Linked DNA regions of Homo sapiens: all the other regions are reported to be linked to region 4. Evidence: microRNA targets listed by miRTarBase, many of them from high-throughput screens and not tested one by one. Region 4 holds a microRNA gene; each other region holds the end of a gene's coding sequence.

Evidence for each region. The annotated mature microRNA hsa-miR-548h-3p reads CAAAAACCGCAAUUACUUUUGCA and lies in region 4 at 2,712-2,734, shown strand. An mRNA with a match to its seed (bases 2 to 7 or 8) in the 3' UTR can be bound and repressed. Matches are read on the target gene's strand: a 7mer-m8 pairs with bases 2 to 8, a 7mer-A1 pairs with bases 2 to 7 and ends in A, and an 8mer does both.
Region 1: miRTarBase lists SNCB as a target of hsa-miR-548h-3p. Seed matches in the 3' UTR shown: 7mer-A1 at 1,735-1,741.
Region 2: the mRNA of LRRC55 is a reported target of hsa-miR-548h-3p. Seed matches in the 3' UTR shown: 8mer at 5,238-5,245 and 7mer-m8 at 3,339-3,345.
Region 3: miRTarBase lists HYCC1 as a target of hsa-miR-548h-3p. Seed matches in the 3' UTR shown: 7mer-m8 at 5,747-5,753, 7mer-m8 at 5,722-5,728, 7mer-A1 at 3,356-3,362 and 7mer-A1 at 2,091-2,097.

The regions. Positions count from the first base shown.
Region 1 is chr5:176,615,093-176,622,254 of GRCh38, reverse strand. SNCB (synuclein beta) reads left to right here. Exons shown (of 6, transcript NM_003085.5): 5 at 952-1,041; 6 at 1,412-2,173. The coding sequence ends at 1,444. Among named protein-coding and RNA genes, the nearest start is that of GPRIN1, 8.5 kb to the right of the region's middle. RefSeq lists a silencer at 2,794-3,063.
Region 2 is chr11:57,186,947-57,194,108 of GRCh38, reverse strand. LRRC55 (leucine rich repeat containing 55) reads right to left here. Exons shown (of 2, transcript NM_001005210.4): 2 at 2,392-6,864. The coding sequence ends at 6,629. LOC105369309 (a long non-coding RNA gene) reads left to right here. Exons shown (of 7, transcript XR_007062670.1): 3 at 1-61; 4 at 4,958-5,188. Among named protein-coding and RNA genes, the nearest start is that of LRRC55, 8.6 kb to the right of the region's middle. RefSeq lists a silencer at 7,156-7,162.
Region 3 is chr7:22,939,502-22,946,501 of GRCh38, forward strand. It overlaps HYCC1 (hyccin PI4KA lipid kinase complex subunit 1), which reads right to left. Exons shown (of 11, transcript NM_032581.4): 11 at 1-6,662. The coding sequence ends at 6,088. Among named protein-coding and RNA genes, the nearest start is that of HYCC1, 71 kb to the right of the region's middle.
Region 4 is chr8:27,044,443-27,051,604 of GRCh38, reverse strand. MIR548H4 (microRNA 548h-4) reads left to right here and starts at 2,642; the gene lies at 2,642-2,752.

The sequences.
Region 1 (7,162 bases), not on the chromosome of region 4:
CCTGGGCCTTGGCATACGCATCTGTGCAGTGGGGAAATGAGCCAGGTCAGGAGCTGGAAACTCATGTGCCCACAGGGCCCACTTAGACAGGTAATGTGAAGGAGCTGACGCTGCCTGGATGGAGCTGGGACACCCAGGGTGCAGACGTGGTCAGGGCAGGCTTTCCCCAGCACCAATGCTCCGGGATCCCAGGCGTGTGCCAGCCCCACATGAGGCACTGCACAGGCTGTGCATGGATCCTAAGCTATCGCGTGTGCTTGTGTGTGCAGCCAGCTCAGTCCCATGTTTGTTCACATACATGTGGTCACCTGCAGGTGGCTGGCCATGTGTCTGGCAGCCCGCCCACATGCATGCCCGCTGGTCTGCGCCTGTCTGGGCAGCAGACGCAGCGGGTGGGGGGGAGAGTCTTAGCTCACACATCCAAGCAACACCACGAGCTGTGGCTTCCAGCTTATCTTAAAATAGCAACAGCTGAAGAAACGAGGCCACACAGGGCCCGGGGGAGGGATGAGTGGAAGGTGGCGGGGGAATGGCTCAGAGCCCCTGCCCAGCCCTGTCCCTGAGCCTCCAGCTCCCTTCAGCCCAGGGGAGCCTGAGGGTTATCTCTGGGGTCCCGATGCCCAGCACAGAGCCTGACACAAAGGATGAGGCATAAGCTGGTGACTGAGTATCCAAATGGTGGAAGTGTGGAGGCTGCCAGGCATTGGGGGAGCGGCGTGGAGAGCCAGCTCCCACTCCATGCTGCCACTTCAACTGTGATTCGGGGGAATTTCCCCCTTCACCTCCATCCCACTTCCAAGGCACTCCAAATAAATAACTGAATTAGAAATTATCCTTGCTCTGCCAACCCACCCTAGCCTTCCCCACTCCAACCCACCCAAAGCTTACCACTGTGGGAATTTGGGGGGCATCCTGGCTGTCCTCACGAGTCCTGACCTTTTCTGCCCACAGCCAGAGGAAGTGGCCCAGGAAGCTGCTGAAGAACCACTGATTGAGCCCCTGATGGAGCCAGAAGGGGAGAGTTATGAGGACCCACCCCAGGTGAGGGGGCAGCAGGGCTGGGCGGGACTTTGGGAATCCAGGATGATTGCTGCCGTCCCTAGCTGGGGTGGGACATCCCTGGCATGAGATGGTTGGGCCAGGGAGCTTGACATCCCTCTTCTAGAACCCAGGCCCCAGGAGGTGGGAGCAGGGAGGAGAGGGCAGATAGGGTCTAGCGCTGGGCCCCAGGCACACCTGCCCAAGAATTCTCTGTTGTCCCCAACTTCCAGGCTCCTCCCCTGCCCAGGAAAAGGGGAATGTGCTATTCCTCCTTCAGGGAGAGGGTTCTTGGGCCGGGGCTTGGCCACTTGGTCTCAAACTCCTCCTCCTTTTTGCTCTTCTCTACTCCACCCCCATCCCGGTGATGCAGGAGGAATATCAGGAGTATGAGCCAGAGGCGTAGGGGCCCAGGAGAGCCCCCACCAGCAGCACAATTCTGTCCCTGTCCCTGCCCCGCCCCCCAGAGCCAGGGCTGTCCTTAGACTCCTTCTCCCCAATCACGAGATCTTCCTTCCGCTCTGAGGCAACCCCCTCGGAGCCTGTGTTAGTGTCTGTCCATCTGTCTGTCCTACCCGCCCGCGTCCAACCCCGGGGCATGGACAGGGCCAGGGTTGCGGTCGCGGCTGGGAGCCTCGCCCCTCCAGTGTTGCCTCCTCCCATCCAGCGTCTGCGCGGATGTAGCATGTTCTATGTGTTTTTAAACGAAGATCCGAGCGACGGCTCCTCCCCGATCCCCGACAGTGGCTCTCCAAGCGGCCCCCGGGCAGCCCCAGAGCACCCCGCCCGACTCCCATTAACCTCGAGAACCTTTTTTTTTTTAACCAAAACCAGGAGCCAGGCTGTGCCATGTCCCCCGCCCCCCATCCCAGCCGGCCCGGTCCGAACGCGGGCGTCGTGTGTTGTGATTGTGGCATGGAGAGTCCCCATCCCCCCCATGTGAGCGTGTCCCGGGCGGGTGGGCCCGGCCGCCCCCGAGAGTCCATGAATAAAGCTAATCTGTCTGTAGCCAGAGCCGCACCGGCAGGGCTGGGCTGGGCGCCGGGTGGGGGCGACACGTGGCGGCGAGTCTTCCAGGTCCCAGCCTACCCCTCTGTGCTCTTTGGGGTCTGGCACACACAGCCCAGGTACAAGACTGGCCACCTCTGGCTTCGCGTCTCCATCTCCCACTCTGTCCCCCGGAAGGCAGGTCGGGGAGGGTGCCCCCGGGGCTGGGACACGCAGTTGGCTGGGAGGCGGGAAGGTGGCCTCGGGCGCCTCCTGCTAGTCCCTAAAGTGCCAGCTGGGAGTGCAGGATCTAGGGAAGCCCCATGCCGCCGCAGCGTTGGGGCGGAAGGGCTCACAACTGGCCGCACAGGTAGCGCAGGCGCGCCGATGCCCACTCACGTGCGGACCCGCGTGCCTGTCCGTGGGTCCATATGCGCGAACCCGAGTGTGCGCACTCTGGCCGCGCGAGCGTGCATGCACGCTGGCCAACACGTGCATCCCATTCGAGCGCTGAAAGACCTCTCCCACTCCAGAACGTGGACACGCACAAAGCCCCGCGCGCACCTGCCCAAAGCAGAAAAACTTGTCTAAGGGGAAGGGAAATGGGCAACTGCCCCTGCAGCCAGCAGAGCCCTGGCCTCCGGTGCTCCACCCTCCCACCCCCACGAAGGCGCCGGAATGTTTGAGGCCGAAAGTTTGAGGTGGGCGAGGGCCCGCAGAGGTCTGGGATGCCGCCCGGGAGCCTTGAGCGGATCAGGATCAGCACTAGGGGGCCCCCAACACCGCCTCAGAGTGAGAAAGATGGGGGCGGAGATACTGCTGGCTCCGCGCAGAGGCACCGCCCCCCATGCGCTGCCTTTATTGGCATAGGCAGTCCCTGCGCGAGGCCCCGCCCCTGCCCTCTTGCCGCAGAGGCCCTCTCTCCGCGCTTGCACCGAGGCCCCGCCCCGTCCCGCAGAGGCCCCGCCCCCACCCGGACTGGCTCTTGGCGTGGCTATGCCGCAGAGGCCCCCAAACTCGCCTGCGCAAGACCCTGCCCTATTCTAAACCTCAGTGCGACCTCAATTCGTGCCGCAAGCCTGCCTCGCCCTCCAGCCTCTAGCTGGAAGAAGGTTGCTCTATTCAGTTAGCCCCCGAGTGTTAGCGCCTCCTCTTTCCCTGAGTTGTTGGGGGCAAGAAGTGGTGCCAAGCCGGGAAGAAGGCCTTGAACGCTGCGGGAGACCGTTCTGCTCAGGTCACCTTGGCCCGCAGGGTAGGGACCTTTATTTCCGGAAGTAGGAGGCAGCTGGCAGACGTGAGGCGGGTGGGGTGGCGGGGGGGAACAAACCGGTGGGCTTGGATTCTCTGAGTCACTTACGTGAGGATGCCAGGAGCTCCAGATCCCTTTTGGTTGAATTAAGATGCTACTCACAACCCACAATCCGTGGAGATTGCAAACTCGTGGCCCTCAGGCTGAATTTGGCCTGTAGATATGTTTGATTTGCGAGCACAAGGTTTTAAAATTGTAAAATTTGAATGCCTTTAGGCTGGACACACTTCCAGTTGGTCGCAGTCCCTTCCCCTCCTTTTGTATCACACCCATCCACTTCACTCATTTTCATGCACTGCGTGGCCCCTAAAGACTGAGTTTGCCGCCTCCAATCCAGCTACCAGCACCTGATCCCCATTTTTAAACGCCAAAACCAGGTTTGCCATCTGGCTTGTGGGGAGATTCATTCCTGCTTCCTGGGTGCCAACCCTCACACCTGGTCCCACTGAGAATGGTTCTGCTCAGAGACCAGTGTTCTCATCTGCCAGGGTCAATGCATTCCAGGCACAGGCCTAGAAGTGTCAGCCAAGATACCAGCCTCGTGTCAGAAGCCTTGACCGTGTGCATGTGAGAGCCCACACATCTCATGGGCTCTCTCTGGTGACAGGGACCAAGCCATTTCCCAAGTGCCCAGTATATCCATGAAACGCTTATCTCCAGTAATTTCACTGGAAACTGCCATCAAGTCTTTCTTGTTTTTTACCCCCAATTTATGGATGAAGGAATGAAGGCTGGAGAGGCAGTTACCTGCCCACTGTCGCCATTGCTAGGAAGTGGCAAAGGCCACATTTGGCCCCAAGCCTGTCTCCAAAGCCCACCTCCTTTGGAATTTCCAAAAGGGGCCTGCTTTGCCTCTGAGGGGAGATAAACAAAAGACACAGGAAAATGTGGAGGTAGCAGCGTGGAGATTACGGACACTTGTGCAATTTCATGGAGCCAGGTAGCGAGGTTGTGTATGTGGGTGGGTTTGAGCTATGTGTGCACACTTACAAAGGTGGTATGGGCATGAAGTGTGCTGTGTCTGTATCAGTGTTCACGCATGTACCCATGTTGCGGGTTCGTTTAGTCCGACAGTGTGCGTGGCACAGATGCTCTGTCCTTAGATGGAGGAGGGGCTGCAGGGAACAGCCCTCAGGTCACTGCTCCGACTAGAGCTCACCTAGTGATCACAAAATGGCCAACAAATACATGGAACAAGATAATCTTGAGTTTTACGAAGAACAAAGCAGGGCGGTGTGATAGAATGCGACGAAGAGGAGGTGGTGAGCAACCTTAAAATAAGGCGGCCAGGGGCCGGACACGGTGGCTCAAGCCTGTAATCCCAGCACTTTGGGAGGCCCAGGCAGGCGGATCATGAGGTCAGGAGATCGAGACCATCCTGGCTAACGTCTCTACTAAAAATACAAAAAATTAGCCGGGCATGGTGGCAGGTGCCTGTAGTCCCAGCTACTCGGGAGGCTGAGGCAGGAGAATGGCGTGAACTCGGGAGGCGGAGTTTGCAGTGAGCGGAGATGGAGCCACTGCACTCCAGCCTGGGTGACAGAGCGAGACTCCGTCTAAAAAAAAAAAAGAAGAAGAAAGAAAGAAAAGAAGGCTGTCAGGTCAGTTGTCTGAGTTGTCTGAGGAGGGGAGGTTGGAGCTGAAACCTGATGGAGGAGAGGGTGGTATGGGAAGACCTGGGGGGTGGCAAGTGTCGCAGATGGAGGAAAAGCCCACCTCGCTGTGTCTGTGTGTCCCCAGCAGTGTGGCCATCAGGCTGAGCCCAGCCAGGCCTCCTGAGATCCGTGGATCCAACCCCACCTTACCTGGCCCATGATTTCCCTTTGTCTGCCTGCCTCCTCCTCCATCCAGACAGCGGCCGTCACCTCTGCCTGCCGCAACCCTCCCTCTTCTGAGCTTTTGTTAGTCCTCTGACTGGAAGTGATTTCTCCTCCTCACCCCCATCCTGCTTTGCTGTGCACACAGAGACTGCCTTCCCACCCATGTCAGCACCCTGAGGACCATTGCTGGGTGGCTAACCTGAAAACTGCCCTCTCCCACTGATGGAGGGCTGGGGACTGTCCCCCGTCCCCGCTGTTCGTCGGTCTCCCTACCCCCACCCCCAGCAATGCAGCTCCACAGCTTTCTCTGGAACTTTATTTTTGTTTTCTCCCTTCCCTATTTATAGCTCTCTCCCCTTCAAACCATCCCTGCATCCATCCTGTTGCCTGGAAACAGGCTCTGGGCTGAGGGTGGGGGAAGGCCAGGCCGAGCCCAGGCAGGGGAAGGAAGAGCTGTCACCCACTCCCCTCTTAGTACCACCCCCAGGCTCCTAGAAGCCCACCCCTCCCTCTGCCCAGCACCCATCGTGTTTTTTAAAAAGAGAAAACAAAATGTGACAAGCAGCGGCCTTTGGGAAGTCCTTCCTGGCTCCTCAAGGGCACCATGATTTCACTTGCACCTCTCAATAGCCTACCTGCCCGAAACTTGGACCCATTTTTTCAGATGAGGAAATAGAGGTTTCAAGAAGCAAAAGTCTTGCAGCCCAGTGGAAGCTCCATGCTGTGGGGTTGAGAGCCTTGGGATATCAGCCTGACACACTGAAAAGAAAGCTTGAAAGCATAAATCATTCTGTAATTCTTTACTTACAGAAGGATAGAGAGAAAAAGTTTACAACAAACCTGCCACACAGCAAGCCACTGGCCATGCATCTGCCATGCCCTCTGCCATGCACCCTACCATGCCCCTGCAGTACCCCCACCTACCTCCTACTGTGTGCCCACCACACCCAACTGCAACTTGACTTCTGGCCCTAGTGCTTACTCCACAGATTGGACCAGGCTTGCTTCCTGACTCTGTCACCCCACCAACTGTGGCAGTGGAAGTTCACATAACCTCTCTGAGCCTTGGTTTCCTGAGCCCCAAAATGAGGATGCTAATTTCCACCCCATAGGACTAGTAGGAGAATTAATGCAATACTGATGAGAAAGTGCTTCGTAAATTATAGGGTGCTGTAAATTGGGAGTGATCAATTAGAATAGTTAATATTGTTTATTGTTATTGTCATTGTTAGGACCAAGAGGTAGGGCGGGGAACCAAAATTGGCCCTGAGATTAGAGAGGGAGCCCCTGGCCAGGGTCCAGGCGGAAGGACTCCTTTCCCTGGCAGAATGAGGGACATGGGTGGGGGCTGCCTGGGTGCACCTGCAGGATATCAGGGAGTGGAGGAGGGCACAGAGGTCTTCTTGTGCCCAATTTCTCCCTCTCAAGTGCTCCATCCCTTATTGTCTACCACCAACTCATTGTCCCCTGCCCTAAGATCCAACTTTGCTTTCCAAATAGGCTCTCTGGGATAACTTGAGCCCAGGAGTTCAAAATCAGCCTGGGCAACATAGCAAGACCCTGTCTACAAAAAATACTAAAAATTAGCTGTGTGCAGTTGCTCACACCTGTAGTCCCAGCTACTTGGGAAACTGAGGTGGGAGGATTGCTTGGGCTCAGGTATTGGAGGCTGCAGTGAGCTGTGATCATGACACTGCACTCCATCCTAGGCAAAGCAAGACCCTGTCTCAAAAAAGAAAAAGGAAAAAAAAAAAGGCTCTCGGGCAGAATGGGAGAGAGGGCTGCCAAGGAGCAGCTGGGCCATGATTCAGCCTGAGTCACCCATCCGAATCCTGGGGCCTCCCTCATCCAGGCCGGGCCGCAGCTGCTGGGGGTGAGGGGGGTGCAGCGAGGGGGGAGGGGGCCTGTGTGAGCAGCAGGCTGTGTGCCTGTGTGCCCAGGCTGGGGCTCTCATGACCATCAGTGCAGCACTGTGAGGGCCCGGGGATAGTGCATGTGAGGAGATCAG
Region 2 (7,162 bases), not on the chromosome of region 4:
GACCTGATGGAGATACTGGAACATTGGCGATCTTGAGCTTTGACCTGGATGTGCTGACAGGGTAAGATAAGTGTGGAGGAAGAGTGAAACAGGTATTTGGTAACAAGAAGAGCAGACCATGTTAGAGACTGGTGGAGTTGATCAAAGTCTGTTTCCTTTGCCTTCTATGTGCACAGCTAGTCTACTTCCCTGATGTTAAATGAAATCATGGGACTCAGTTCTGGCCAATGGAATATGCGGGAATTAAAGTACAATGCTTCTATTTTTGACTCCTGCAAATGTCCTTGAGATCCTCCATGCTGTAGAGAATTCCCATGGCCTCAGAGATGGCAGAGCCACTAGATGGAAGAATCCTGGGTCCCTGAATAACCATGTGAGGCAGAGCCTCTGACATGCTTTGGGACATGACATGAGCAGGAAATAAGAATTAATTGTGTCAAATAACCTAGCAAACACATCTCTACTTTGTTGAGATTTTGGAATCACCTATTATCACAATTAGTCTACCTTGTCCAATGCAACCATTAAAGCTACTTGCAATGAAACAGATAGGATACTTGTTGGTTTTACCTATTACTCTCCAATTTTTTTCACCAAATAATCACAGAAGACTGATATGGTTTGGCTGTGTCCTCACTCAAACCTCAACTTCAATTGTATCTCCTAGAATTCCCACGTGTTGTGGGATGGACCTAGGGGGAGGTAATTGAATCATGGGGGCTGGTCTTTCCCATGCAGTTCTCGTGATAGTGAATAACAAGATCTGATGGGTTTATCAGGGATTTTCCCTTTTGCTTCTTCCTTATTCTGTCTTGCTGCTGCCATGTAAGAAGTGTCTTTCACCCTCCGCCATGATTATGAGACCTCCCCAGCCATGTGGAACTGTAAGTCAAATTAAACCTCCTTTTCTTCCCAGTCTCAGGTATGTCTTTATCAGCAGTGTGAAAATAAACTGATATAAAGACCTCTGTGGCTAAAACCCTACTTTTGACTGAGACTGAATTTTCTCTTATGGCCCACATTGTTCTTGTCTTCTGAAGTTAGTCAGTCACCAAGTATTACTGAGTGTCTAAACTCAGATCAACTACTTACTAGCTATGTGACCTTAAGCACGTTAGCTTGTTTGTGCCTCAGTTGCCTCATCTGTAAAATAGAAATAATAATAGTACTTACCTTGGGTTTTTGTGAAAATTAAGTAAATTAATCCATATATAGTGCTTAGCAGAGCAGCTGGCACACAGTAAGTGATGAGTAAATATATCATCATCATCAACATCATCATCATCACCATCATCAGTCCTTGGCACTATGAACAGCATTGAATGGGATATGCAAGATCTGGTCTTTCATGAGATGTCTGCTTATTTCAGGAGCCTTATTTTTGATCTTGCACTTGTTCAGCATAGTCTCTATTAAATACTTAATTTGAAGAGAAGGGTTTTGCCTCCCTCTAATCTACTCTAGAAAACACTGATTACAGTTGAAGATGTTCTCTGTTTAGCTAAGTGTTCTGAGTCAGTATCTGTGTTCCATTTAGAGGCTATGAGTGCGGTATTTGTTTGTACCCTGTGGCAATTGGAGTGGGAGGAATAGAGGGAGGTTAACATCCCTATTGGTGGAAGGAACTACTTTCTGCTCAGAGCCACTTCCTGCTTGGATTGACTTCCTTACAGCCACTTCCTACTTAGAATACTAAGATAAAAACAGCTGCCATTGTACCTACAGAAGTACACTTTCCTTCTTTTCCTGTCCCTATTCTCAAGGTACACTGCCTAGGCATCTCACTTCTGATGATGTACAGGCAACACTTGCAAAACCCAGGAGGTTTAGAATCCTTTCCCTTCTTTATTAACCTATGAGAACAGAGGCTGAACTTATACCAGCAATGGCCTCATCCAGCCCCAACACCATGCATTTAGATGCCTGATTTACCTGCATGCCTGAGTTAATGTCTTTCTGCCCATGCTGCTGGTGTGTGCTATCTCCTTATCACACACCCTTCAGTGATGCTAACTAGGCAGGCACACCCACTTGCCTTGGTATGTTTTATGGACGACCCAAGTTGCAAACATCAACATGTGTAAGACATATGCTCTCTTCTTTGTGTAATTTCAGGCACCAAAATATGCCTACACAGAGGGGTATGTGCATACAGACACACGCGTATTCTTTTTTTGCCTGGTAGAAATATACTTCTGTGATGTTCCTTCAACTCCCACACATGCCCCTCCATGGCTGGCACATCTCCTAATTATTTCCATCCACTCCCTCCCATAGACCTTTTGTGCGTATATTTTGGCACACATTCTCTTGGTTCCGCCTAGTTCCTTTCTCTCTTTCTTTCTCTACCTCCCTCCCTCTCCCTATCCCTCTTCACAGCTCTTAGGAAAATTTGTTAAACTATACACTCTTTATTATTAATGTACATTTATGAAAAATTCTGCACAGTTACAAAAGTGCATGGTTATAAAATCATCTCCATACAAAGGTTGGCATCTTCCCTCTAACCCCACCCCTCCCCAGCCCTCCCACCCCCAGACATTAGCACATTACAGGACAGTGCTTAGAAAAACTGAGAGCTCTGTGGATCCAGCTCTCCGCCCAGTGCTGTGACAAACACAATAGTGATTTACAAAAGACCTTGTGACGCCCTCACTTCCCTTTTGCCTCTTCCTGGGGTGGGGAAGCGCAGACAATTTTCTCTGGCTTTAGGAAGATGTCCTTTTGAGGAATGGGTTAAGATATATCTTTTTAGTCTTCTACTGCTGGAAAGGATGTCAGCACAGACACGTATAGGGGAAAATGGAAGCTGGAGGTCTTCCCCCATGGTTGAAGACAAACACCTGTCTTGATCTGTTCAAATTTCATACATGTCCCTCCTCGAAAGGAGCCATGAACCTCTGTAGCAACTCTGGAGACCTATTTCTGCAAAGTTCCCTGGGAATTCCTCTAGGAAGGGAGAAAAAGAGACGAGGGTTTGTCTGAGGGTGACCAGAGATAACTGGCCCAAAGTGATGTGATTCAGATATGAGGGCTCTTCTAAAAAGGAATTTTCTTGGCCCAAATCTTGACCAAACTAAACTTTGATATCCTCTGGCCTAGCATGGAGGAAGCTTCTGCAATGGGGACAAGTCTCTGAGGCGCAGGAGAGAGCAGAGGGAAGCAAGGAGAAGTCAGGTTCTCATTAGGATGCCTCTGCCACAGATTTTTCTCCTTCTTTATTTTTTGAGCATCCAGTCCTACCCTAAACCTGGTGGGATTCCATCTTAATCTATCAAGCAATGTAATATTAGATTGACGCAAAAGTAATTGGGATTTTTGCTATCATTTTTAATGGCAAAAACCGCAATTACTTTTGCACCAACCTATATATGCCTATTTAGGCATGCTTATTTATGCATATTTAGCCACTCAGCCTATGGCTGAGTGGACTATGTCAGAGAACTGAACCCAAGTTCTAGAGAGATCTGTCCCAAGTCAGCGGACAGCCAATATACAAGGAACCTCGCAGACAGACATACAGATGCAGAGATACCCCATCACATACATGTTAACCAGTTTGGACAATTTGAATGAAGCCTGTGGTCACCAGGGATATGGGAGCAATTCTAATCAGGATTGTTAGATTATCTCTAGAAGGTTGCTTCTGATAGCTTGGACAAGATGATGGCGGTGGGGGAGAAGCAGGGAATTCCTTGGCAGTAGGGAGGTTGAATACTTTCCTCATTGTGCTCTAGTAAACTGAGGAACTTCTAGCAGCAGGAGAAACATCTGTCCTTTAAAAGCCATGTATCCTGTTCAGAAAGGCTTGGCATTAATGGAGACCAAATTGTCCCACTAGAAAGGACATTGATGTCAAGGGGGCATTTGGTGTCTTTTCTGGTTCTAGTCCTATGCAAAAAAGCATATATCTTAAAATATATTAACTACATTTTGGCAAACAATAGTTCCTGGGAGGTTATTATAGTATTATGGTATGCCCCTATGGGAAACTTTTCTATTTTGTCAGGATTATAGTTTCTAAAAGTTCCTCTCCAAGTATTTAGGTTGCTGGCCTGGCTTGTAGAGAACAACTTGAGTTCACCATCCTTGGTCATCACAGAAGGAGAGAGCAGGGCACAGTTCTGCTTCGGATGTCACAGGGCCAGGGATTTGTCCCAGATGTTGTAAGAAAGATTCAGGGGACACAGGTTCAAGTACTTCAGGTCTAGCAAAGTTTCTGAAGACTCTTTTGGTTGACTAGCTCAGGGAAGCACGAGTGAGGGATGCCTTCCTGGAAGATGACTTATTAGCCTCCTTCATTCCTTTCAGGCTTTCCAGGAGGATGGGCTGATAGAATACCGCTGGAGCTTGGGGCAAGGGAGGTGTGGAAAGCCCCTGTTTTAATTCTCCTCCTGGCCAGACTTATCAGCATGTTGGACTGTGCCTTGATGTTCTTCTCCTAAACTGCAGAGGTTCTCACCTATAGCTTTCTTGCTCTCTTAGTATCTCTTGCAACACACGCAGCAGGGCTTGAGCAGGAGTGGTTAACACAGCTTCCTTTCTTGATTCCCAAAGATCTTACTTTTCACATGACTGCCACCATGGCCACCATTGCTGATGTTTTATCTACACATTGTAAAGCAGGAGTCTCCTATTCAGGTGTTACCTGTGTAGTCTCTGTTTCAGAGCCTGCAATTTGCCCTACCGTGAGCATAGTTCAATCTGTACAGCAGATGGGTTTGGCTGCCTTCTATTTAGCTTATCCACTAGCACATTCATGGATGCTGAATTCCAGGGCCCCACTACCCAGCCTTCTGAGGCATTCTCTTCCCCAAGCACTTGAGAAAGCACTGGAAAGAGAACTGTGTTAGGGTTGAGCCCCAACCTTGCCACATAGCAAGTCATATCCAACCTTGAGACTTTTTTCCCCATCTGTAAAACAGGATTACTGATGTTTGATTTACCTCCTGCACAGGGATGTGAAAAGTCAAGGAGAATGATGCAAAAATACTCATGAACTATCCGGTGCTGAACAAATAGAGGGAAGATAATGATGCTGCTGACGAAACTGATGAAGAAGACCACGATGATGATAATTGTGCTTTGCTCGTAAAGTTACTTGATTTTTGACTGACTGATTAGATGCAGTTTCCCTGAATGGAGCTGCCTACCGCCTTCCTTCTAGGGCTTATCCAGACAACCTTGGGTAAGTCACTCAACTCTCTACGATTAATTCATCTGTCAAATGGGGATAATAAAAACCACCAGGCAGTGTTGCTGTGAGAATTGAAAGAAGTGAGTCAATAGATATAAAAGTGCCCAGAGGAGTGCCTGGACCTTATGAGGAACTTTGTCAGCTCTAGTTGAATTTGAATTTATATAACTCTAGAGGGAATGGTGATGTTCCCCAACTTGGATGGGGCAGTAGAAAGAGCACAGACTTTATCTTGCTCATAGTGGCATGTGACTTTAACCTCTCTGAGCCTTAGTTGCCTCATCCGTAAAATGGGAACAACAGCGTTCACCTCAAAAGATTTGTGTGTGTGTGTGTCAAAGGGAATGGTTTGTGCAGAGAGCTTTTCAAAGTACCTGACACTGGCAAGGGCTTAGTATTTAATAGCTCTCTCACCCTCATGCTTAACGTGGGTAAGTTGCTTAGAAGAAAATGCAAAGCCTCATATGGTCATAACTGTGCTGCCTTTGTCCCCTTTTAGCTCTGGGTGCTGCCAGGCTGTGGGTCTGTGGCCCACAGTGCACTTTCCTGGTGAGACCCTGTGGCATGAGCACTGTGGCAAGAACAGTCACATGATTAGGATCCCAAGGTGCCAGGACTCTTGCTGCCCCAGTTGCTGGGCCTCCTGCCTCTCTCTTCTGAAGCAAAACTTGAGTGAGAGGCAGGAGCAAGGGCATTGAAAGTGTCCATCCTCAGCCTGCTGCCTGGGACCTCACCAACTGGTGACATTTGGTCATATGGGGGCAGTCACTGGGAGGTGGTCTCACCTGGTAGCTGCTGGTGGAAGGAGGCCAGGGGCTGTCATAGAGGTGTTCTTACTCCCTGTAGGCAGTGGCTGGCATTGCTGAGAGCTGACAGTTTTGGTGTCAGGAGGTGAGGGGTAGGTTTGAGTTCTGTGCCACACCCCCTCTATACAAGTAAGTGACCAGGAACTGTTCACTCTTCTCAACACAGCACACTATGCATATTCTGGCCTCTGCCATGTGCAGACACCCTTCTTTGCCTACCTGACAAAGTAGATATTTCCTGATGACCCAGTTCACAAATCACTCTAATCTTATAATTCTCATGGACATTGCTAGATACAGATGATGGCTCCTCCTCTGGGCCTCCATAATGACGTGCTCAGAGTCCTGACATATAGTCTTAAAGGGAATAGTTTTTGGATCTCTCTCCTTGACCAGAGGGAAGTGCCTTGAGGGCAGGGACTGAGTCAGTTCATCTGATGTTCCCAATTCCTAGCGTGCCGCCTGGCCCAAAGCAGATGCTCATACAAAATGAGTGTCCCCACCTTGCTTGAACCATGACTGAGGCAGCCAGGTCACCATGGAACCAGAGTGAGCAGTCAGGGAGGGCGTCTGGTGGCCAGCAGCTGTGGCGGTCAGCAGCATGGAGGGATGAGAGGCAGGCATGTCAGATCTCTTCCTCTTCACTGGCCTTGCTCCAGCGGTGGCAGCAGTTGGCAGTGATGCCCAGGAGGAAGTTGGTGGCCACAGAAGCAATGGAGACCACGAAGCCCACGAACGCAATGAATAGGTAATCATCCAGGGTCAGGGTCAGGTGGCAGGCCTTGAAGCTCTCCTCAGTGAGTGAGAAGAGCGGGGCGCCCTCGACTTCAGGAGGGCCCCGGCACTCAGCCAGCTGAGAATCTGTAACACAGAAGCCAGGGAGGGTGAGGTACCCAGGGAAGGAGAGGGGATTGGAAAGTCCACCCACAACCGCTTGCTGGAAAAAGTAAGAAAGACATTCATTGAAGTTCTTCCATGTGCCAAGAATTCTACTTAACTCCTTTAGTTCCCTCAACAACTCTCAAGACAAGGATTTTTATGCCTATTTCTATAGATGTGGAAAGTACTGTTTAAAGAGTTTAGCAATTTGCTGAAAGTCATCTGGCTGTGACCAGTGGTAGATCTGGGGACACCATCATCTCTTACAATAACCTCCCAA
Region 3 (7,000 bases), not on the chromosome of region 4:
TTTTACTAACAGAATAACGAGCATTGTTTGACCACTAAAACACAATTATCTCTAATTCTGTAAAATGTATTATGATTTACTTTTAGAACACTTTGATTTTATCTTACCTTAAAACTATTACCTGTAAGACAGATGGGGTGAGTGAATTTTAAATACATCTCTATTAGGTAGGATTTAATTAGTATCTTCTTTTACCAAGCTATATAAAGTGAGAGTCCTAAGACCTGTGTTCAAGGCTGAGTTTTGCCACTCAGCAGCTAGGTGACCTTAGCCAAGTCCTCTACCCTATTGAGAGCTTCAGTTTCCTCTTCTGTAAAATGGGGATTCTATGCACTTTATAGGATGATTTTGAGGATAAGATGATCATTTTAATTACACATATTAGCTACCACTACTATCACAATAACATAATGCAAAGAAAATAATAACTACAACTGGTTGTAAAAAATCTTTCTCTACAATTATAAAACAGTTATCTTGATATTAACAAAGTCGGGTTGTAGGAGGTGAGTCAGCTATGTGGACTACTGGAGTTACTGGAAGAGTGCATATTGTATAGGACAAAATACTGCTTACAAAATCACCACTCTGGTTCTCTACAAGTACCCTTCTAAGAGTAGTTAAGAACACATTTCCTAAATTACTTAGTTCCTTAGATGAAATGGAATTAACCAAACATATAATCAACTACAAGCCAGGAATTTTTTCAAGTGTCTAATAGGTTAATAGGTTCTGTTTTTTTTTTTTTTTTTTTTTTTTTTTTTTTTTGAGATAGAGTCTCACTCTGTTGCCCAGGCTGGAGTACAGTGGCATGATCTCGGCTCACTGCAGCCTCCGCCTCCCAGATTCAAGTGATTCTCCTGCCTCAGCCTCCTGAGTAGCTGGGACTACAGGTGCCCGCCACTATGCCTGGCTAATTTTTGTATTTTTAGTAGAGATGGGGTTTCGCCATGTTGGTCAGGCTGGTCTTGAACTCCTGACTTCAGGTGATCCACCCACCTCGGCCTCCCAAAAGGCTGGGATTACAGGTGTGAGCCACCGCACCCAGCCATAAGTTCTTTTTTCTAAGTACATGCTATAATGCAATTCATGTAATGCCACTGAGATTTCCTAAAGCCAACAAACAAAATTCTAAAATTGTACTGTTAAAGAAAACACTGAAGACTTATCCTTGATTCTTTTCCAAAGCTAACATCAACCTAACTCATTTATTGTCTCATAAATGTCTAGATACCTACCACGCACAAAGTCCTATCTAGGTACTAGGGGCATATAATCTCTGTACTCAAGAGATATAGACTCTTTCTTCTTCTTTTGCTTTTTTTTTTTTTTTAAGAGATAAGATCTCGTTATATTGCCCAGGCTGGTCTCAAATTCCTGGGCTCGAGTGAACCTCCTGAGTAGTTGGGACTACTACTCACCACACATGGCAATAAAGATTCTAAAGTTAGAAGGACAAAGTGATGTTACCTAAATTTGCCTGTGCTTCTGATATGACAAATAATCCGCCACTGGTGCATGGCCCATAGAGCTCATCTTCATCTTTGGATGAATACGAGTGGACCTGTCATACTCCTCAGCCCTATGACATGTAAAGCACAAAGCCAGGAATGAGGTCATTGTCTTATCACTTACCCCCAAAAGCTCTCAATGGCTCAACTTACCTAAGTCTTCCTCCTTTATTCTCTTCCTTCATATCAAAACTTCTGCAAATTTTTATAATAATTTTTTAAATGAGTAAACTGATCTGGAAAAAATATTTTTTTCAGTTTTTATTTCAATAAAACAAGAGGCAACACTTGTTGTATAAAGTACTACATATGGAGAACATTTACACAAATATACAAAAATTCAAAAAACTAAACTCCAGTTTATTTCCATAGCCTTAAGAAGGTAGGGAACACACAAAAATAGCCAAAGTCGTCGTTTATTCTTTAGGAATGTAAACTCTAGGAATACAATTAGAAACAAATATATTTACTATGAAAAGATTAGTATCACTAAATGATTAGAAATAAAGGTAAGAGGTACACAATAAGTTCCATATAAGAGAAAGCAACAATACGTGAAATAAAATCTTGGGTTTATGGTAAAAACTTCCTATTAAGACAAATGTACTCTAAAACTCTACTATAAAAAAACACAAAAACATCTCCCAAAATGTTCGTTGTTAGTTTCTTTAGATATGCACAAGTTACAAAGTATAGAAGACAATATATTTATGCTCTCTGATGAAGAATTTAACAATATTAAACATAAATCTGAATAACTCAAAGTACTGAGTATAATTTTACTAAGCAACAAATGTAGAAGTATAAATTCATGCTCATTAAAGGACTAGAGAGTTTTAATTTTTCATACAAAGACTGGGAGGACACTATTATACATTAATTTCTATCTACAATGCTTAAAGTACCCATCAAATTATTTTTCTTTTTAAGTGGTTTTTAAAAAATATTTTTCAGTTACATTATTCAACATGTATATATTTCCTTGATGTGCTTCCCTTTAATACAGATTTATTGTGCCTAAACGCAAATGTTAACCTGCCTTATTTTAAATATTTGTTTAAAATTATGTCTCAGAGTACATCTGTTCTCTGTAATTCAACAGTTTTAACATTTTAGTTTTATTCTTCCAAAATAGGCAAAATCCCTTAAAACTGGGATCATTTTGATCTATTTTGGTTTTAAAAATATATTTCCCTTTAATTCAACTTTTTAAAAAAATGAGTAATATTTGCTGAGCAGTTGCTTCACAATTGAAAAGAGCAATGAAATATTGCTTTTTCAAAACAAACTTCAGGCATCATTTAAATGCCGAGAATTCCAACTCTTCAAGTCTTGAGAGCTTGCCTTAAAAATTTCCATAGTGGTATACAAAGGACTCCAGGGTGCTTTCCTGTGGCTTCAGGAAGGGAAGGGAAGACATTTGCCCTGGGTAGTCTGGGACAGTCCCTTGAAAAGTCTATTTTTGTTTCTCTCCCCACTTGGATTCCAAAAAGCTAGTGCTGGCTCCAGTGCCACCAGAATACTCCAGGCCGTTGGGTTTTCAAATGTGAGAGGTTGGGTGATTTCAAGAATCTATAGAGATTTAAAATGTGCAATGAAGCCACAATTTCTGTTCAGATCCTCTGAAATATGGGGTGCAAGACCCCAATTTTGTGTGGAATCCTTCTCATGATAAAAATATTATTCTGGATACTTAGGAGATCTGTGACCATCAGCATCTTTATAAGAAAGTGACCTACAAAAGCTACCCCAATTTTCAAATTTGAAAGTTCAGTGGGGAGAAAGTAGTATGGATAATAGTAATGGTTACCATAGTTAAGATTATCCAATTTTCATAATTTCTATAAAAACTTTCAATGTGTAATCCTTATTTGAAATAGTATCAAAGGAACTATAAAAGAATTTTGTTGTTAACGTAACTCCGCTCTCCAGAAAATCAATTAGTGCAAATCATTTGAAGCAAAAAATCAGAACCATTTCACTGAGCAAGTCTTCAGAGATTTTTTAAAAAGAATATACAAATGCAAATTTGTTGTGCAGTATATAAAAGGGTGGCACCCCTTTTCACACTTAAAATTTCAGGCATTTACAGCTCTGATTCCATTTATAGTTAACAAGAAAAATATAAAGTGTTACTTTTTTACTGCAAAAATAAGGATCATTAGCAATCTAGAATTCAAATACTTAAGAAGCCATATGTCAATATTATTAAACTAATTAATTAGCTGTCAAAACCAATGAAGATTATAATGATCTAGTGTCTGACACATTTGATCTAGGGCTGTGAGACCACTGGGAATTCTACATATTAGACGAGTAATTTGTTTGCACTCTGATACTTTCTTCTCATAAAAATCACTTGGGAACCTTGTTAAGAATGCAAATTCTGATTTAGTAGACCTAGAGTGGCATGAAATTCTGCATTTTTAACAAGATACCAGATAATGCCAATCCTACTTACTGGTCCTCAGACCACACAGCTAGCAAAGGTCTAGAGAGGTCTAAATGAGGTTCCATTACAGTGATAGAACATGAAAATCTGATCTCTCAGCTCTGTCAGCTAACATTTCCCCAAACTTATTCTACAATGTTTCCTAAGCACCTCAACTTGCTTAAAATGCCAATCTTAAAATGCCAAATTAGTTTTTAATAATACCAATACTATTAATAACTATGCACAGGGGAAATTCATTGTTAAAGAATGACAAAAAGACATCTGTAAATTCACAGTGATATTTTACAAATATTTTAAATTGTACACAGGGTTCCTATTAAGTTAATACAATATCAAGTTTCACTGCCCGATTGCCTTACAGTTCTTAACTACAATTTATGGCAATAGATCTTATTCCATTCTGTTACTGGAGCTAAAAGAAAATCAAATTCATTTATGTCAAAATCCACATTGTAAACAGGGCTAATGAATGAAAACGAGTTCATGCTTTTTGAAGAACTCGGTTTAAACTGGTAGCCAAAGCAGTTGCAGTTAAAACTATGTCCAGAGTATAAATGCTTTGGCAGCCTTCAAAGCATACAAATTTTTCATATATCTGAGCTCTGCATAAGCAGGAACAAGAGGAAAACACTAGCATGCTCTCTTGGTGACTACAGCAAGGGACTATGAAGAAGGAAACCGCTGTGCAGTCACAGTGAAAAAGAGCCAAGAACTGGACAGCTCCTTAGGTCTTCCTCAACGGTCAACTGACTCAGCCTCAGCCGTGCTTTCTCTCTCTCACTCTGAATGATGACTTAAGTACATTTGCTTTACAGGGGAACCGCAACCATAGCCAAAAGGACCACGGCTAGCAAACATCAAACTTTTATTTCCATCTAGAGGTCACATACAGATACATACAAGTTTGTTTCAACTTCTGCCATGTCGTCTTTTTCATTTTTACTTTTTAGTTGGGAGGTAACTAAATTGATTATTCTTTTGATATCATACTAAGATATTTAAAACAGGCCTGTTCACTAACAAGAAAGACATTTCTTTTTCTTCGTGTTTTAAATTTAAGAACACAAACATAAACAACTTTAGTTAATATATAAATGTCCTTTGTCCATATTTCACTACCTTTATTTTCTTTCATGACATTTTATAGATGAAAAATGCATTTGCAGACAAACAATTACATATTATACAGTGGTATCTTGAGAGCTATGTTGCAAGATTTACACTGATTTCCAGGAAGTCTTCCAATGACGTATGCTCTGAATTATAGGAGTCCAAACTAACTAGGATTTCCAAAGTCCAGCAGTAGGGTAAATCAGCTTTACAGCCTATTATACCTTAATAATTGAAAGGGATCTTCACATGCTAAATCCAGATAAAACACTTCAAAACAACACACCTACCAGCAATCTGATTTTTGATATAAAAATGTTTCAGAGATAACAACAGAAATGCCTCTAGCCATCCCCTGGAATCATATAATATTCTAGGCACTGGGTTACCAGGCATTTTCCAGGGCTTTGAGCAAATTGTTCTAATCATAAAGATGATCTGCTTACAAATATTTTCATCAGGTGCTTTTCATACACATCATTTTTGTGTTTCCACATGCCTGTTTTCAGATTGGCTTCCTGACCAGGAGCTAGAGAATTCCTGGAGTTGTGCCTCTGCCCCATTCTCTATAAAACAGTTCCCATACATGCAGACTCCCTTTGACTCTGAAGGCCAAACACACAGCCATCAAAATAGGAGCTATTAAAAAACCAAACCAAACCAAAACAAGAAAAACCACCTTACAACCTCACATGAGACATAACCAACTTGATTAGACAACCTGTCAAAATTTATTGTCACTGACAATCTTAGGGCAACAATAACAAATAAGAGGAGGGAAAAAAAAGACTCAAACCAAGGGGAAAAAATCTTAATCAAGAAATAACAAAACCATATTTCAACTTACTGCAACCTAGACAATCTTCCCTTCATAAAGTCAGGGGAGCCTTCAGAATTTAAGACATCAGGGCTCCTGTCAGGAATACGGATGAAAGACCCAGGGTACTTTCATAAAGAAGCAAAGTTGTATTTCCAGGTTCACTAGGTTATGGGAGAAAAATATGTTACTAATTAATCTGTGGACAGAGTAATGCTAATACTAGGAGGTCTCTGCTGACCTGATTGATGCTTCATTGGAAGTTCAGTTCTTTCTGAAACGTAAATAAGCTTTTCTTCTTGGAGACTACAAGCGGAAAACCTATTGGCATCTGTCCCAGCCCCACAACCAACAGCAGATGACGGGTTATGTGGGACTGTGACACCACTGACTTGTTCAAAGGATTTACTAAATACAGTCGCTGCGGTCTTAGCCAAACCATGGCTACTAGGCTTAGGTAGGGATTGGCTGGTTGTTAAAGTAAGTCTCTTCAAAGAGAGAAGCTCAAGATTCTCACTTTGGGCTCTCTGAGTTTGTTTTCGAGCAAAGTGATCTTTGCAAGATTCCCCTGTAGTTTCTTTTTCTTTTCCTCCAGTTTTGCTTCCTCCTGACCGTCTGTGGTTCTTTCCTATACTTGGCTTGTTACTACAATTGTGACTACTGTTTGATAAACCCGACTGGCTGGTACTAGACGCAGCCCTGGAATAAAATCCCTCGTCAACTTCAGATATCTCCATCAGTTCTTCTTGACCTGTTAATTCTGTATTTCCTAAACAAAGAAATGACAAAGATTAATTAACATTAAGTATTTTAAGCAATCTTTTTAAATGATTAACACCAAATCAGTTATGCTTTACATAAATTAAGCTTTAGCATAATTTATAAAGCAACAGATTATAGAAAATCAAAGGATAAATCAAAACATTTATTATAAAATGTCAAAAATACTTCACTGTAATTAAATGACAGTAATTTATAGTGTATTAAACAAAAAGCATGCCATAAACCATACCCCATTAAGTTTTTAGAAAGAATTCTCCTATTCATGCAAAAGATAAGAAACAATTAGAAATATCACGCAGTAAAACTAGGGGTGAACTCTCCTTC
Region 4 (7,162 bases):
TTCAAGTATGTTTTTGGAGATTTATCTTGTTACTGTTTGTTTTGTTTGTTTGTCTTATTGTTTGTTTGTTTTGTTCCTATTTCTTTCTTTTCCTTGATTTTCAGTATTGGTTTTTTTACATTAGGTAGAAACCTACTTCTTAGTAGACTGAGATTGCATAGAAGGTTTCTACCAGTCCGTTTGACTAGAGATTTTAAGGTGCCCCTCTTATTTCGGTGTTTGTTCAGACTGCTGTGCCTATACCAGAAGGTCTATGACATCTTATAGTACTAGAAGTCTTATCATGACATTTTTGTTAAAAACTTAGAAATTGATTTCTGAAAAGATTTTACAAATGTAGTGAGGTATTTTCTGTATTTTATCATACTAAATAATCTCCAAATAATCTGATAAATGAGCATAGTGTTCAGAAAAAACCTCTTTTAATGTGATGAATCTTTTATAGATTTAGGCATATTTATGGCAAACCGACTATGCTGTATCAGTCCCCCTTCACACCCCCGAGGCTCAACTGAGATTTACCATTGGAATTAATTGTGAATGGCTTTGTCTCAGGACTATAACATATTCCAAGCTAGAGGTTTCAGGAACAAAGCGTCTGCATCTGTCTTTGTCTTTAGCCCTCACGTGAGGAGCCCATTTATTAGCCTTCTTTATTAATTTTTTATATGGAGAAGTGACTCAACATGTACTAGACAGCCAAATAAATTACTGATCATCTCCTTCTATGCACAGTTTCATATTACCAAAAACTATACGCATATATGAGTTAAACAATTTGGTAATATGTTAACAACATAATATCTAGAAGTATCTCACCACTTAAAACATACGTGCACAAACACACATATTCAATCTTGTTGGCTTTTATTTGTTTCAATACTATAATTCTATTTTTGATATCCCTTCAATTATAATTTAGTTTCCATTGTTATGATATATAAATATATTTGTGCATAGACTATTTGGATATTTTATATTTGCATTAACTAAAAATTTTCACCGCATTTTTGCATGCATAATTTTGTTCTATTTCTTTCTCAATTTTGCTTTAAAAAGTATCTTCATTTTGCAGATGTGCAAGCTGAACAGAGGATTAGAACTTATTTTTTCTAAAAATCTAACAGTTAACTTCTAGCAGCATTGAGACCAGAATATAGATCTTCTGACTCCAGGCTCTTTGCGGTAAACATCAATCCCTCTGTGGCTAATGTCCAAACACAAGATGAAAGAAAACGTGGAGCAGAATACAAAAGGAATTATTTCATGCTGCATTCAGAGGTGTCATTCATACCCAGGAAGCACTTTTAATTACCAATCTGGTGTTAATTTTCTTATCTGTGTCTCATCTGTGACTAAACATTATCCAGCCCAGGCTGATAAATTCTGATATGAATCAGATATTATTTCAAATTTATGCTTTAGCCATACCCATGTAAGCAGTCTCCTACCCCATATATCTCATTTACAGAGACTGTTTATTTGTAGTTAACTTTTAAAAATTCAGATTCATAGAATTACAACTATAAATTGCCAAACATGTATAGAATTATTATTATACAGAAAATAATATCAGTGTCATTATATCCAATTAATCTTTCATTCAGAATCTTGTGCAGAACAGATTAAATTGAGAACTTAATTTTTTACACATTCACGATTTAACCAGAGAATGTGGCTCTATTTTATATTAACAAATAATTTCTTTGTTTATTCAATAAGCAGTATTCATTGTATTATTAAAAAATGGTCTACTCATAAGGTTTTAAAACAATTGAGTCTATTTATTTCTTTTCCCCTCATGTGTTAATATTTTTTTTGCCTAGTGCTTTAGAAAATATATGACCTAGAAAGCAGCCTAATTCTTGTCACAGCTGCAACCTTACTGATGCAGAAAATTTGGCATTTATATACAATGAAGCTGTCTCTAATGCTTTGTCCACCTTCTAGAATCCCCTTTGTTTAATTACTATGTTTGGAGCCTCAAAAAGGGCCTGCTTTCAGGAATAAGTGGATGGGAATGAGGGGATGCTGATGTGTGAATAAAACGGTGATATAAAAGAAAATGGCTAATTCCCCCCTCTGGCTGAAGTCTGTGGAGGTTGTTCTGCCTGTCACTGATAGCTGTGTGAGTCAGTCTCCAATTTGGGAATTACAATCCTGACCCACCCCCACACCAGGATTGCCCCTGCTACACGTTTCCATGGTGCCAAACTTCCCTGTCCTAGCACGTGATGGCAATTGCTTCTGCTTTCCCTGATAGATGTGCAGGGTTGGGGACAATGCTTGCCTTCCCAGAGTCACATCAATATCTCGCACAGAGCTGGCACATGGCGGGCCCTTCATAAATGCTTGTTCAATGAAAGAATAAAGACAGTTTAAAATTTGAGCTCATTTCTGCCTTTTTCTTTTTAATAGCTTTATCAAAGTATAAATTGATAGACAGAAAAACCCCACATGTATTTCATGTGTACAATTTGATGAGCTTGGGTATACATATACACCCATGATATCATCACAATCAAAATGATAAACATATCCATCGCCTCCAAAAGTTTCCTCTGCCCCCTGCTTTTTGTGGCAAGTGTACCACAGAAAACTTGAAGCCAAACTTGTGATCCTTCGTTGTTCCATTTCCAAAGCTATTAGGTTGGTGCAAAAGTAATCGCGGTTTTTGTCATTACTTTAATTACTTTACGTTTCATTAATGACAAAAACCGCAATTACTTTTGCACCAACCTAATACTTGCTATCATCACTTCTTGTCTATTTTCCATTCCTCTTATAAATGTTGTACAAACTAAATCACACTTAAATAAAATAAATGGGAAATAAAGAAAAAGGAAAAAAGGATGAATGCAGGGAAAAAACACTGCCTGGGTCTGTCTTCTGTCATTCCCCAAAATAACAAGCACAAGCCCTGATATTCATATTCCCAGCATTCACCAGTTGCCCTTTTTTTTTTTTGAGATGGAGTTTCACTCTTGTCGCCCAGGCTACAGTGCAATGGCGTGATCTTGGCTCACTGCAACCTCCACCTCCCAGGTTCAAGCGATTCTCCAGCCTCAGCCTCTCGAGTAGCTGGGACTACAGGTGTGCACCACCATGCCTGACTAATTTTTGTATTTTTAGTAGAGATGGGGTTTTGCCATGTTGGCCAGGCTGGTCTCAAACTCCTGACCTCAGGTGATCCGCCAGCCTTGGCCTCCCCAGATCCTGGGGTTATAGGCGTAAGCCACCCTGCCCGGCCCAGCTGACTTTTATCTTGAGTGACAGTTTTAGAGAAAGGAGGAGGAGGAAATTAGTATATATGGCAGTAGTATGACATTTCATGATCTTAAAAATAGATTTCACCAACTGTAGAAGGTGTTCCCTAAACTAACTGCCTGTGTAGTCTTAATCTTCTCAACGTAACAACAGGTAGTCCATATTGTGGCAGGGTTGGGAGGTGGTGATGGAAAGGGGAGGTGTGAATTCCACAAGGTCTGAGACTGGGACAGGAAGTCTCCATTTTGGCAGTGCTGGTGGGGTAAGAAAGGGCTAATTAGAAGAAAATGCAGAAGCTGAAGTTGAAAGATCAGGCAAAGGCAAAATACTGGTCTAGTAGGAAGTCCAGATCATGGTCAAGTTGGATGGCTTCAGAGGGAGCTATTCAGATGGGCTCCAAAAGTGTCAGCGATCTTCTCTGATAAGCTACCCAAGCTCAGGGCAGGGATACTGATGCTCATTTTATGGTAAGAGCCAGCAAATGAGATGCACTGATTCCACGTTTGTGGATTCTAAACAGCATTTTGCCTTCCTTCTCTATAGTCCTCTTTGCAGCACTCCACGTTACCACCACGGGCATCCCAGATGTTCCTCCTTCATAAACACCTCTAGTTGTTCGCTTTCCCAACTCATCCCTTTTCCCAGCCTCAAGGAAGATAAATCAGTTTTGGGCATTAACTTCCATCCAGTGCACTGGGCTGAGGAATCAGCATGGCTGATTCTGCTATCACTTTCACGAAGCCTGGGGGCAAATGAGGGGAGTAGGGAGGGGTTGGGACCAGGGCACACACATATTGTGAATCTAGGAAGAATCTTAGGATTAAAGCTGTTGCATTTTCCACTTGTATTGAAGCCTTGGGGGTAATGGCTATCCCTTTACCACACTCTCCACCTGACTAAGCTCTCTTCAGCAGAACAATCAACCCAGGCTATGGCTGACTTCATCCAGGGAGACCTAAATTTTTCCATTTACTAGGACTTCTTGGACTTTTTTTTTTCTTTTAATAACCATATAGTCAGCTTTACCCACAATGCATCACCTCTTGTCATCCTCAGACACAACGTGAGACATAAGTTGCACTGACCAACTGAATCCTTCTAGTCTCATCCTCTCCTCTGAGATCTTCCTACTGCTTCTTTTACTATTAAGTCCTCTAGAATCCCTATGCTATGAAAAACACAATCCATACAATTTCACCCTGAACATCTCCACTTGGACACAATAGACATCTCAAACTTAACATATCAAAAACAGAACTCCTTTTTTTTTTCTTCTTTTTTTTTGATACAGGGTCTTACTCTGTCATCTAGGCTGGAGTGCAGTGGCGCAATCTCGGGTCACTGCAGCGTCCACTTCCCGGGCTCACGCGATTCTCTTGCCTCAGCCACTTCAGCAGCTGGGATTACAGGTGTGCACCACCATGCCCGGCTAACTATTGTATTTTTAGTAGAGATGGAGTCTTGCCATGTTGAGCAGGCTAGTCTCGGACTCCTCAAGCCATCTGCCCTCCTCAATCTCCCAAAGTGCTGGGATTACAGGCATGAGCCATTGTGCTGCCCTAGAATTCTTTATTCTATTCCAATCCTTTCCCCAATCTATTTCTGCTTCACTTGGCTTCCTATTATTGAACAGTTACACCATTCTTCCAGCTGCTCAGGCCAAAAACTTTGGAGTCATCTGTGCTATCTTTCTTATTTTCTAACCCACATCTAAGTCCTCAGCAAGTCCTGTTGACATTTCCTTGAAAAATACAGCTCAAGTTGAACTGCTTCTCATCACCTCCACAGCTACCCAGAGGAAGCTGACGTATGTTCTCCTAACTCAGCCCCACTTTTTCTGTTTTTGTTCACCTATGCTCTATTCTGTTCCCAGCTACTGAAATGATCCTTTTTTTTTGAGACAGAGTCTCGCTCTGTCGCCCAGTCTGGAGTGCAGTGGTGCAATCTTGGCTCACTGCAAGCTCCACCTCCCAGGTTCACGCCATTCTCCTGCCTCAGCCTCACGAGTAGCTGGGACTACAGGCACCTGCCACCATGCCAGGCTAATTTTTTGTATTTTTAGTAGAGACGGGGTTTCACTGTGTTAGCCAGGATGGTCTCGATCTCCTGACCTCGTGATCAGCCCACCTCAGCCTCCCAAAGTGCTGGGATTACAGGCGTGAGCCACTGCACCAGGCCGAAACAGAATTCAGAGCATCTTATTCTTCTGTTTTAAACCTCACAGCTTTCCATTTCACAATTAAAAATTTTTACACCCTTACTTTGATATATAAGGCCTGTCTAATCTGATTCCCAGCTATGTTTCTGACACATCTGTGTGATAATAAATGGGTAACACCTGGCTCCCCATATGCCATCCTGGCATGAATGTTGGTTGATATTTTCATACATGTTAACAAGTAAGACAAGAGTAAGAGAATAAAGGAGTGTGTTGGAATTTCCCCATGTGTCGACAACAAGAGGATGTTCTTTGCCAAACTGGATAACAGTTTTCAAATACTGGAAGAATATTTCCTCAATTTTTTGTGCTGTTCAAATGTAGCATGAAACTCTTCTACATTTAATCTGAATTATTAACATTTTCTCCACCTCTTCCTTAAGTCTAGGCAATCAACAAAAATTAAGGTATGCCTTGATTTGTACCATTTGTCCATTTCCATTGTGTAATTCTCCTACGGTGGCTGATTTCAAGCTAACAAGTCAACCACACTGAACTCGGAGCTGGGAAGAGATGCACAGGACTGAAGCATTATATAGTATTTCCACCTTACAGACACTCAGATATACATAACTTCAAGGGCATAGATAACAGTAAAAATGTAGCAAACTAATTAGGAAGTGGTGAGTTTTAGTTTTAATGTGATATGTTCAGTTATAAGTTTATATGATTTAATGTTTAAGAATGGCTGTGTTTAGCAACCGTCTGGCAAAATTCCTGAAAACTTAACAGTTGGCTCTGCAAACCAGTGTAGGCTGGCTCCTACATACCACTTACCACCGTTCACTGTGCCTCTGCTACCCTGTGCTCTTTGCTGTGCTTTGAACACACAGCACTTTCCCAACTCAGGGACTTTGCACTTTCTGTTCCCCATGCCTAGAATGCTCTACCTGCATGCCTTGCTCCTGTCTTCATACCTTTCATACCCTTCTCTGCTCAAGTATCACCTCCTCAGTAAGGTCATCTCCACCCATCCTGACTCCCCAACACCCGCCATCCCCTTCCCATGCTTCCACTGTTTCTCGTAGCACTGATTACTCCATGATGTTCTCTTATTTCCTTGTTTACATGTTTATTCCCTATCACACAAAAATAGAAGCCCCATAAGATTAGAGAGTTAGTTTTCACTGCAGCCCTAATGCCTAAAAGAGTTTCTGGCCTACCATAGAGATTCAACAGCTATCTGTCAAATGTTTTGGGACCAACTCAGTATTTTATTTATTTATTTATTTATTTTGAGGCAGAGTCTCATTCTGTCACCCAGGCTGGAGTGCAGTGGCATGATCTTGGCTCACTGCAACCTTCACCTCCCAGGTTTTAGCGATTCTTGTGCCTCAGCCTCCTGAGTAGCTGAGACCACAGGCGCCCACCACCATGCCCAGCTAATTTTTGTATTTTTAGTACAGACATGGTTTCATCATGTTGCCTAGGCTGGTCTTGAACTCCTGGCCTCAAGTGATCCACTCACCTTGGCCTCACAAAGTGCTGGGATTACAGGCATGAGCCACTGTGCCTGGCCAGGACTCAGTACTTCTTTCTCCTCCATGGCATAACTGAAATCTACCCTAGAGACCTTCACAGGTGGGATGCCATTCTTAGTCACAGAAGCCACTTGCACCAAAACCACTTACAGTGATAGAAATAAAACGGCTTCCAGGTTGGGAGATGGAGATAGTA